Homo sapiens: one gene and its partners. The protein of the gene in region 3 interacts with the protein of the main gene of each other region in a biochemical or structural test. Each region holds a gene or a part of one and is shown on either strand. Other genes may lie near its edges. The genes, in order: DYNLT1, LRRK1 and BAG3.

What was found.
Region 1: the proteins of BAG3 (region 3) and DYNLT1 form a complex in vitro, tested with the Homo sapiens proteins (one study listed by BioGRID).
Region 2: the proteins of BAG3 (region 3) and LRRK1 form a complex in vitro, tested with the Homo sapiens proteins (2 studies listed by BioGRID and IntAct, with this or other methods).

The regions. Positions count from the first base shown.
Region 1 is NC_000006.12:158,638,832-158,641,867, forward strand, and holds part of DYNLT1 (dynein light chain Tctex-type 1), read right to left. Parts: intron 2,530-3,036; coding exon 2,488-2,529; intron 1-2,487. UniProt on the Homo sapiens protein: Acts as one of several non-catalytic accessory components of the cytoplasmic dynein 1 complex that are thought to be involved in linking dynein to cargos and to adapter proteins that regulate dynein function.
Region 2 is NC_000015.10:101,048,334-101,051,984, forward strand, and holds part of LRRK1 (leucine-rich repeat serine/threonine-protein kinase 1), read left to right. Parts: intron 1-160; coding exon 161-324; intron 325-759; exon of another isoform or gene 760-1,310; coding exon 1,311-1,450; intron 1,451-2,300; exon of another isoform or gene 2,301-3,377; coding exon 3,378-3,627; exon of another isoform or gene 3,628-3,651.
Region 3 is NC_000010.11:119,668,347-119,671,997, reverse strand, and holds part of BAG3 (BAG family molecular chaperone regulator 3), read right to left. Parts: intron 2,148-3,651; coding exon 1,821-2,147; intron 1-1,820. UniProt on the Homo sapiens protein: Co-chaperone and adapter protein that connects different classes of molecular chaperones including heat shock proteins 70 (HSP70s), e.g. HSPA1A/HSP70 or HSPA8/HSC70, and small heat shock proteins (sHSPs), e.g. HSPB8.

The DNA of each region.
Region 1 (3,036 bases), on a different chromosome or scaffold from region 3:
TGTCGCTGCTCTTGCTAAGCTTATCATTATGATATTGCCATTGTATGATTTTCTGAGTTTTTCATTGTCAGCTCCCCTTTCACATGGATGCCAGTGTGCTTGCATCTCAGCAACTTTATTCTCTACCCCTAACTTGCTGTGCTGGAAACCAGGAACCTGAGTTTCTATGACAGTTATGACCTAAAGTGAAAATAACAACATTCAGTGAGGGCCAAGGTCTGTCCTCAGACAGGCAGAGCAAACCAGCAGTCCAGGGATCTGAGCTGTGCATGGTGGTGATGGACTGGGATCTGATGCCTGGGGCTTAGATCTGGCGACCTTGCTTTTGAGGACCTAAAACCTCCCTAGGTCACTCTGATTTCTACCCACTGACCTGCTGATCATCTCCCTGAGACTCTTGAGTAGTCACGTTACACATAGGGCTGGCTTACTTCTTGTCCTCGGCCACTGTGCTCCCTCCCAGCTCAGAGGCTACAAGAGGGCTGGGGGGCCAGAAGTCCCGGTTTAAGAGAACAGCAGTATTACTAGACCTGGGCATTGTCAAAGGGTAGGGGGGGCTTTGTTCAAGCTAAACCTCTCCCGTCAAAGGGTGGGGGAGGCTTTGTTGAAGGTAAACCTCTCCCTCCGCCAGCTCTCCCTCCGCACATACTTTGAAATTCAGTTTTTCAAGGAGGAGGGAACCCTCCACCAATTTTGGACCTGCGCAAATTGACTACTACCCAATATTTAGGGTCACTTGAGTACAGAATTACCTATTGCGGCGGCAAAAAAGCTGTTGAGGCCAGTGACACAAGTTCAAGTAACACTGCAATGTCACCTCATGTTTCCATGTGGATTGGAAATGTGTTTGTTTTGTTTTGTTTTTTTAAGACAGAGTCTTGCTCTGTCGCCCAGACTGGATTGCAGTGGCGTGATCTTGGCTTACTGCACCCTCCATCTCCCGGGTTCAAGCGATTCTCCTGCCTCAGCCTCCCAAGGAGCTGGGACTACAGGCATGCGCCACCAAGCCTGGCTTATTTTTGTATTTTTAGTAGAGACGGGGTTTCACCATGTTGGACAGGATGGTCTCGATCTCTTGACCTCATGATCCGCCCACCTCGGCCTCCCAATGTGCTGGGATGACAGGTGTGAGCCATCGCGCCCAGCATGGAAATGTGTACTTTCAATTGCACTTGCTAATTGAAAGCTGGTAACCAAGTCAAAGATAAGGCAGAAAACAACTGCGGCAGAACTAGACTTCCCAACAAGCCCCCTCCACTGTTCCCAGTTCTGGTGTAATCCACCCACCTTCCTGCCCCCTGCTGTGTTCCACGTGAAACTGTGTATTTAGAAAAACCATGAAAACCAAACGTACAGATCCTGCAAAGCAACCAGAAAGTCACTCCTGATGCTGAACAATGTAAATGGTCAAACAAAATCATTTTGCCTTTGGATACTGATCACAAACATAGGTTGCGGTTTTTTATCAAACACTAGTCAATAATTTACATTAAATTCTAAATTACATCTGAAACCCCAAACAGTATCATTAAATTCAGATCATCTAATAGTTTTCTTTTAGCCAATGGCTTTAGTATCTGTGCCCCATTTTACCCAGGGAAGGCAGGGAAGCTGATGAGGAAAACTCTTTCTGGCTTCATTCCTACCCTAGGTAGGAATGAGCCCCTAGCTCTCAGCACCGCTCCAGCCACACCCACCTCCTTTCACTCCCTCACACACCATGCACTGCCCCCACTTCCCAGTCTCAGGGGGCCTTGTCCCCTCTTTTTACTGCATTACCCCTACTTCTCATTCTGCAGATTTCAGCTCGAAATGGTCCCTGAACTCCCTGGGTGGGTCACATTCCCAGTTCAGTGCTCTCACAGCACCACCACTAGTGGCACTTACCACACAGCAAATGCAGGCTGACACCTTCCAGCAGGACTGTTTGATGTGTCTGCCCTGCCTGCCCCTCAGCTGTAAACTCCAGAAGGGTCTATGCCCTGCACGCTCCCTCAGTGTGTACTTTCTGAATGAGTAACAAACATCCCTTCTGTCTCTCTTCCTCTTCATGATCAACAACACAATAAAGTGTGAAATTTAGGAATGTAAGAAAAGTAAGCAAATAGGCCCCAAACTGGATCACTAGGTCCAGAATAACTGGAAATTGATTGTTCAATTTTCTTATACTCACTCTTTCTTCATTCAACCCTGGAGACATTTATTTGTATACCAGGATTCTTTTATGCTTAAAAGATTATAGAATCAAATCTTGGTGATATGCAGTAATAATGCTATGTACATAAAACTCCTTATCTGATTTAAAATATGTAATTTACATAATATAGAAGCAACTCTTATCTAGCTATTTACTGAAGTAAAAACTGTTATTTGAAACACCAAAACACACAGACTCAGTCGAAACAATTCCAAGATAGTATTTAAAACACATTATTTTCTCTAATATAAGCCATTAAACATTTAAGAAGTGAGCATTTCTCCTCTTACCTCTTTTACAATGTTGCTCACTTCATCAACAACAAAAGCAGTCTGTAAGGAAGAACATTCAGTTAAGTTTGATTTATTTAAAAGATATTTCCACTACATTGATAAATGCAAATGTAGGTAATGAACATAATGTAGAAATGAAGACCTTAGAAATAATCTAACTAGACTGTTCAGCTTTACCAAGGATGGCATTACAGTCTTCAGAAACCAGAAGACTAGAATACATGCACATAATTTAAAGGTATTGTTTTATTTTTATTTATTTATTTTTGAGACGGAGTGTCGCTCTGTAGCCCAGGCTGGAATGCAGTGGCGCAATCTCAGCTCACTGCAATCTCTGCCTCCCAGGTTCAAGTGATTCTCCTGCCTCAGCCTCCCAAGTAGCTGGGATTACAGGTGCCCTCCACCACACCCGGCTAATTTTCGTATTTTTAGTAGAGATGGGGTTTCATCATGTTGGCCAGGCTGGTCTCGAACTCCTGACCTCAGGTGATCCTCCCGCCTCAGCCTCCCAAAATGCTGGGATTACAGGCGTAAGCCACCACACCT
Region 2 (3,651 bases), on a different chromosome or scaffold from region 3:
ACGTTCAATTTGGCAGCAGGGATGAGCAGCGTGGGAGGAGAGGGTGGGAAAGATGGGGGACATTTATCAAGATGGGGCCCAGCCCGGCCTCTGCAGAGCTCTGCCCAGGGCCAGCGAGGAGCCCAGAATACTTAAGCAGGGTCTTTTCTCTGTCTTTCAGCTTTTTGAAAACAAGAAGAATACTAAAAGCAGGAACAGGAAAGTCACCATTTACAGTTTTACAGGAAACCAGAGAAATCGCTGTAGCACATTCAGAGTGAAAAGAAATCAGACCATCTATTGGCAGGAAGGGCTCCTGGTCACTTTTGATGGGGGCTACCTCAGGTAGGAACACCTGGAAGCCCACCTGCCAGGTCAGCAGGTGCCACAGCAGCCACCGCGGGGCCACGTCAGCAGGATGCCTCATCCTCTTGGTGTCCAGAATTTTGCTCGTGAGAGCGGCTCGTCATGGCAGCTTGCTAGAAATGTGAGGCCCTCCCACGAGTGTCCCAGAGGCTCCGGTCTCCTCACCCCTGCTGAGCCCCCCTTGCAGGACGGGAAAGGCAAAGGCAGATGTGGCGGCCACAGCTGAGGACTTGAGGGACGTGGCGGCCATTGAGCTCAGGAGAGCCTCAGGCACTTCCCATGGTTATTCAGGTCACCATGGTGACCTTGCAGCCATCCTGCCCGTCCCCTTGTTCTGTGAGAAGCCAGGCTGGGGACAGGGGATGCTGAGACTCCTCAGCCCCCATCTCCACTGCCCATAACCAGACACGGAACTCAGCTCCCTGTGCCATTTATTCTTGGTTTTTTGAGAGCGGTAGACCTAAAGTCAGCCCAACAGGTTTAACGAATGATAAACACCCAAGATTATTTTAATGTTTACAATGAACTTTGCAAAATATTCTTCAGCTCTGTGAGAGGAGAAGAAGGGAAAAGGGGAGGTAACTTTACAGAGGGCTTGATTGGCACCTGCCTCTTCCGCATAGATGTTCTCACTTAAGGCCCAGGGTTGCTGCTGGACAGATGAGCATACTGAGGTTCAGGGAGGTCTGGGAACTTCCTTAGGGCCTCACCTGAGGGTCAGCTCCCAGGCTGAGCGTCCCTGACTGCAATCTTCCTCGTGCCTCCTTCACCAGGCCAGGTCCGGGGCAAGAACAAGGCAGGGCCACGCACACGTACATACAGGGAGGAGTCCCCCATCGGTCCTGCAGGGCACAGAGTCTCTCCAGGTCCCCGGGGGTTGGTTCCTGTCCCTGGGGGTAGGGATATCATCCCAGGGTCCCCCAGAGCCAGATCGCAATGGGCTCCTTTTGGTCTCTGGATTGCAGTGTGGAATCTTCCGACGTGAACTGGAAAAAGAAGAAAAGCGGAGGAATGAAAATTGTTTGCCAATCAGAAGTGAGGGACTTCTCAGCCATGGCTTTCATCACGGACCACGTCAATTCCTTGATTGATCAGTGGTTTCCCGGTAAGAGGAGATGCTAGAAGCAAGCCCTCATTCATGCTAATATTTCTTATGAATCAGGGTGGGGCTGCTGCTTTCGGGGTGGACAAAAATCCCACTGGGATTCAGCCCAAGAAAACTAGGGGGTCTTAACAGCACTTTGGTGGGAGTCCTGGCCCCCGAGAAGTCCAGCTCTGTCACTGGGGGGAGTCCCACGGGGAGGACTGGGCTCGGACACCACTGGGAATGTGCAGGGAAGCGGCCTGCCAGCTGCCCACAGGCGTGGCAAGAAAGATGACACTGGTACCACGAGTGGTCCACGGAGATGCTCAGTGTGAGCTCACACGTGTCTTGTTTTCATAGTGAGGACTGTGTGGCTGAAATTGCAGGGGAGCCGGCAGATGGAAATTTATCCCCTGCGCAGGGGCAGGGATGGAGGGGAGCCGTGGCAGCCAAGGGGCCTTGCTCTCCTCCCCTGCCACCCCACCCATCCCGGCGGTGATCAAACCACTAACACCGCCCTTCTCAGACCCTTTGGATCTGTTTCTTCATTGATAGTTCACCCAAAAAAAGTACTCTTTGAGTGAAGTTCCTGAGGCCTCCTGTTTGTTTTGCTCCTGGGGTGGAGACGACTCCCAGAGCAGCCTGCCAGGGGGAGGCCATCTGGGGTTTAATGGGGCAAGCAGCTGTGGGAGGGGCTGCCCTGAGAGCTTCAGCCCTGAACGCTGGAGGCCAAGCAGCTGTGGGACAGGCTGCCCGAGAGCCTCAGCCCCTGAACGCTGGAGGCCAAGCAGCTGTGGGAGAGCGGGTTTGGAATTCCAGTGCCACCCCTGCAAGCCTCGGCTGGTCCCCCGGCCTCCTGGGCCGGCCTCACCTGCATGCAATGCCTGCATCCCAGACAGCATCAGGGAAGGTGGCTAAGAGGCAGTGGCAGAATGCACTCAGGATACACATTCCAGATCCCAGGGTCTGGTCTCTGTCAGGGTTGGGGTCCTTCACACTGTTGGCAGGAAGGGTGACCTACAAGGAAAAAAGGCTTAGAAAGGAGCCCTCGGAGAAGTCAGCTGGGTGTGCGTGTCATGGTGATTTGGGAGGCACTTGGCTGTCTAAGGGGGCCCTTAGGCCCATGTGAACCCTTCTGGGCACTTTGCAGCTCCCCACCAGCCAGTGTTCCCCACACAGCAGGTGCTGGGCAGTTTGACAGGTGGGTCCCTTAGACAGTCACCTGAGATGGAAAGGGCTCTGGTGAGCACCTGAGACAGATCGCCTGGAGCCAGCATCCCCAGCCAGGGGCCCCTCCCAACGGGATGCCTTACACATGGACCTGCAGATATCAGATGTGCCTGGAAAGTTCTAGGCATCCACCTCCTACCTTGCATGAAGCAGGCAGTTGGCCGGCCCTGAGGGCACCTCCACAGGGCATCTTGGAGGGTGTTTCTCTGCACCTCCTCTCAGAGGCGTGGGGGAATCCCGTGTCCGGTGACTGAGTTTCGTCTATGATAATTTGCACTCATTTCTGCCCCTGCATTGCCCTTCATGGACATTGTAAACCTGATGTTTCTAATTGTAAGAAGGGTGCCTTCCCCACTGCCGTGATGGTTGGAGGATAGCTCACACCTAGTCTGCGATGACCTGTTAGGGCCCAGTCATGCAGGAGGGATCCCCCCACTCCTCTCAGGCCCCCCAGCCAGCCTGCTCAGTGTCCCGACCACTGGACAGTTCTCGGAAGCATCCTGAACCCTCCCTGGACACATCTTTCAGGACAAACAATTGCGCTCTCCAAAAAGGCACCCGAATGTGGCAGTGGGTTTCAGCCTGTCTCTTGGGTACAGGCCAGGACAGGCAGCTCCCCTGCTGCGAAGGCCTCAGGGCCTGGGGTGCAGAGTGCTGCTCGGGGGGCCCTCCTGCACCACCTTCTTGTGAAGCTGTCTCCTGCTCTGTCCTTATTTAGCCCTGACAGCCACAGAGAGCGACGGGACGCCACTCATGGAGCAGTACGTGCCCTGCCCGGTCTGCGAGACAGCCTGGGCCCAGCACACGGACCCCAGTGAGAAATCAGAGGATGTGCAGTACTTCGACATGGAAGACTGTGTCCTGACGGCCATCGAGCGGGACTTCATCTCCTGCCCCAGACACCCGGACCTCCCCGTGCCGCTGCAGGAGCTGGTCCCTGAACTGTTCATGACCGACTTCCCGGCCAGGTATGCCCCGAAGGCCCCTCCCAG
Region 3 (3,651 bases):
GGCCAACATGGTGAAACCCCATCTCTACCAAAAATACAAAAATTAGCTGGGTGTGGCGGCGCATGCCTGTAGTGCCAGCTACTCAGGAGGCTGAGGCAGGGGAATTGCTTGAACCTAGGAGGCAGAGGTTGCAGTGATTTGAGATCACACCACTGCACTCCAGTCTGGGCAACAGAGAGAGACTCCACCTCAAACAAAGCAAAACAAAACAAAACAAAACAAAACACACACACACACAACAAAGACTGAAGGCTTTGGAATCAAGGGGCCTATGTTCAAATTCCTAGTAATTCAATCATTTTCTAAGCTTCATTTGAAATATAGGAAGAGTGCCCCTCCCTCACTGGGCTGCTCTGAAGATGAGGTCAGTCACCTGGGCATGTGCCTCAGCCCCAGGCCAGCACACAGGAAGCGCTCATACAAGGGATGTGTTGTCCCCACTACCCTTTCTCTGCCAATCTACAGAGAACTCGGCTGAGCAACTGGGAGCTGCCAGCATCCCGTGTGGCCCAAGGCAGGTCAAGCACCTTTCCCTGCTGGGCCACCTTCTATTCACCTCGAAATTGAGAGCATTTCCTCTTCTAAGTGCTTTGTTAGCCTAAATTTGTGAAGATGTCTCGCATTTATGTGTCACTTTGATTTCTTGCAGCAAAACCATTATAAATATAGGCATTACTTATTTTTTTATTTTTGAGACAGTCTCGCTCTATCACCTAGGCTGGAGTGCAGTGGTGCGATCTCGGCTCACTGCAACCTCTGCCTCCTGGGTTTAAGCAATTCTCCTGCCTCAGCCTCCTGAGTAGCTGGGATTACAGGAATGTGCCACCATGCCCGGCTAATTTTTGTATTTTTTGTAGAGACGGGGTTTCACCGTGTTAGCCAGGCTGGTCTTGAATTCCTGGCCTCAAGTGATCCACCTGCCTCAGCCAGGTACTACCTCTCTAAGAAAAGAAAAAAGGTATCCCACATTAACTGTAACTTTCACTCTCAAGCAGGTGTGAAGCTGAACAGATTCAGACGGAGCTGAGAGGCAAGCATGACTCAGGGTGCAGATAGGACACGGGAGTTTGTGCCCAGGAACAACGCTGGCACACACCACAGGATGATGTGCAGACAGGAAAATGAGAGGACTTACTGCTTAGGAATCCTACTAGGAATGCCTCAAATCTCAGCTAAGAACCAGATTAAGAACTATTTTTTAGCTATTAATGCACAGAATCCATTGACATATCCCTGAGATGTTTGGCTTCAGGATTAAAATGCTGTCTTAAAGCAGCTGCCTTCCTGACTCCTTATTTCTTTTGAAACTGTGGTGCACGGTGAGGGCAGGCATGGGGTCTCATTTTCCTGTCAACATAGCTCCACAAGCGGTTAAGATTTATCCATAAGCATTGAACTGAACAAAATAATGCACAGCTATCTCTGTGCTTCTGAATAGAAAGCCCAGTGTGAATAAGGAGCATGGAAATTAGGCGCCAGAAGGCAGGCCAGGCTTCCGGTCCCAGCTCTGCTCCCTCCACCTGTGTGCATCTGGAGCAGGCAGGCTGCAGTGTGCCCTTCCGAGCCGTTCCTTAGCTACAAAAAGAAGCCACATGATTCCTGCCCTGCCCCACTGAAGAACAGCCCTATGAGATGCTGGGGGATGATGTGGGGCCATCACCCTGTCTTTGCTGGGTGACCTCTGATGCTGCAGGCTAGACCCAGATGCCCTGCATGTGAACAGGTGCCTGGCCCAGGGCACTGTCCTGAGGGGATGGGCCCGGCCTGGGAAGCACAGCGGCTTGCTCCCCAGCAGGCTGGTGAGCCTGGCCTCTCCTTACCTCAGGTCCGTGGGAGGCTGGGGGCTGGGCTGCCGCCGCCGCTGCCACCTGTCCACACTGTTTATCTGGCTGAGTGGTTTCTGGCATGCCCCGCAGAGGTGACTGGGACCTCTGAGGAGCCGCTGCTGCCGCCTCAGTTCGGAATCGCTGCATCCCAGGCTGGGGATAGACATGGAAAGGGTGCACCTGCCGGTTCTCAGCGCCTTCATGGAGCACAGGAATGGGAATGTAGCCTGGTCGGAGCTGGGGGTACACAGGGTGGCCTTCCCTAGCAGGCGGCAGCCTAGAGCCCTCCCGGGAAGGGCCATTGGCAGAGGATGGAGTCTCCTGAAATAAAAAGTGGAGAAACACAGGCTGGTTAGAAACTGGGAAGTGAACCCTCCTGGCAGAGGAAACACTGTGGCGCTTGGCATTGTGATCTTCCCGAGTGACTTGGGCCTCAAAGCGTCAGCCAGCTCCCAGCCCCTGTACCCTCCAAACCCCCCACCCCATAGAGGTTGCTATTTGGCCAACAGTTTAGGAATTAGGGGCATCAGGAGAAAGCCAAAAGTATCTGTTAAGCAAAGGAAAGGTCCCAATTCTCCAAACTGGTAAGACAGGTTTCTTTTCTGGGTGACTGAGGGAAGCGGTGAGTGTAGGAGAGCTGCCCATGCCCGCATTTTCAGAGACCCGGATCAGAAGATGAGCTCCAGGAGCAGGGGTCAGCTCCAACCTCTACATTACAGCAAGCGTCTCTGTTTCCAAAAAGGCCCTCACATTTCCCAGCAATATAGAGCTTGTACTGGGCCCAAACACAGGACACAGTTTGGGAATCTTTACAGAGAAGTGGGCTGGGGAGCGAGGGCTGCCTCCTCAGGAGTATTGTTAGAACAATTTGCAGGAAGGGGAAGGACAGGGATGCAGAGGCAGCATAGGGAGAGAGGGGCACCCAGGGTTAACTGTGTCGCCTAACGATGCCAACTGACAAAGATTCTCTGCTTGACCAAATCTTAGGCTTCCGAAGCATCTCCTAGGCCCATCTGTGCACTTCCTTGTAAAGTCAAGTTTTAGCAAAAGACACTGCTAAGTCAGTTTAGCCAGAAACCCCCTCCCCAGCCTCACTATCTGATCAGCTTCCACAGCCTCCAGGTGCTGTCTAATCACCCTGGCCTGTCTTCGGCAAGAATCCTGTTTGGTCAGCATAGCCAGAAACACCCTTAGCCCTGATGTTTCCTCTTCTAATTTTCCATCCACACTGCTCCTTGACTATAAATTCCCAATCGCCCGTGTTGTATTTGAAGTTGTGCCCAGTCTCTACCCATGACTGCACGACCCCACTGCCGTGGTCCCTGTGCCTATCTTGATGGCCCCGAATAAATCTTCCTGACTGTGCTTTAACAAGTATCACTGAAGAACTTTTTCTTCAACGCAACAGAGCCTGCTTGGGCAAGGAGCAGTTGGGGTCCTTCTCTTATGTCCTCTCTTGAAGTTCTCCCTTCAGTGGCCTGGCTATTTTGGGACCCTTGAGAAGGCCAAGTTCCAGATGTACCACAGGAAAGATCTTATTTCAGACAACAAGGCTGGCCAGTCACTCACTGGGCAATGCCATCTCTCAGCAAGCTGGGCTGCGCAACAGAAGTCCTAACAGTCCCCGAGCACCGAGGGTCCTTTCCCAGGAGGGGAGCTACTGATAAGTGTCATTTGCATATATCTGTGTAAGGCAACTCTTAAGAAGGGGAGTGATCTTTCCTGACGAAGGCAGCTGTCTGCACGGCGAACAAACGCCAAAGGCTAACAATCTATGAGCTTGCAGGGGACAATCTCTACTGCTGCGGAATCAATCAAAAGTAAG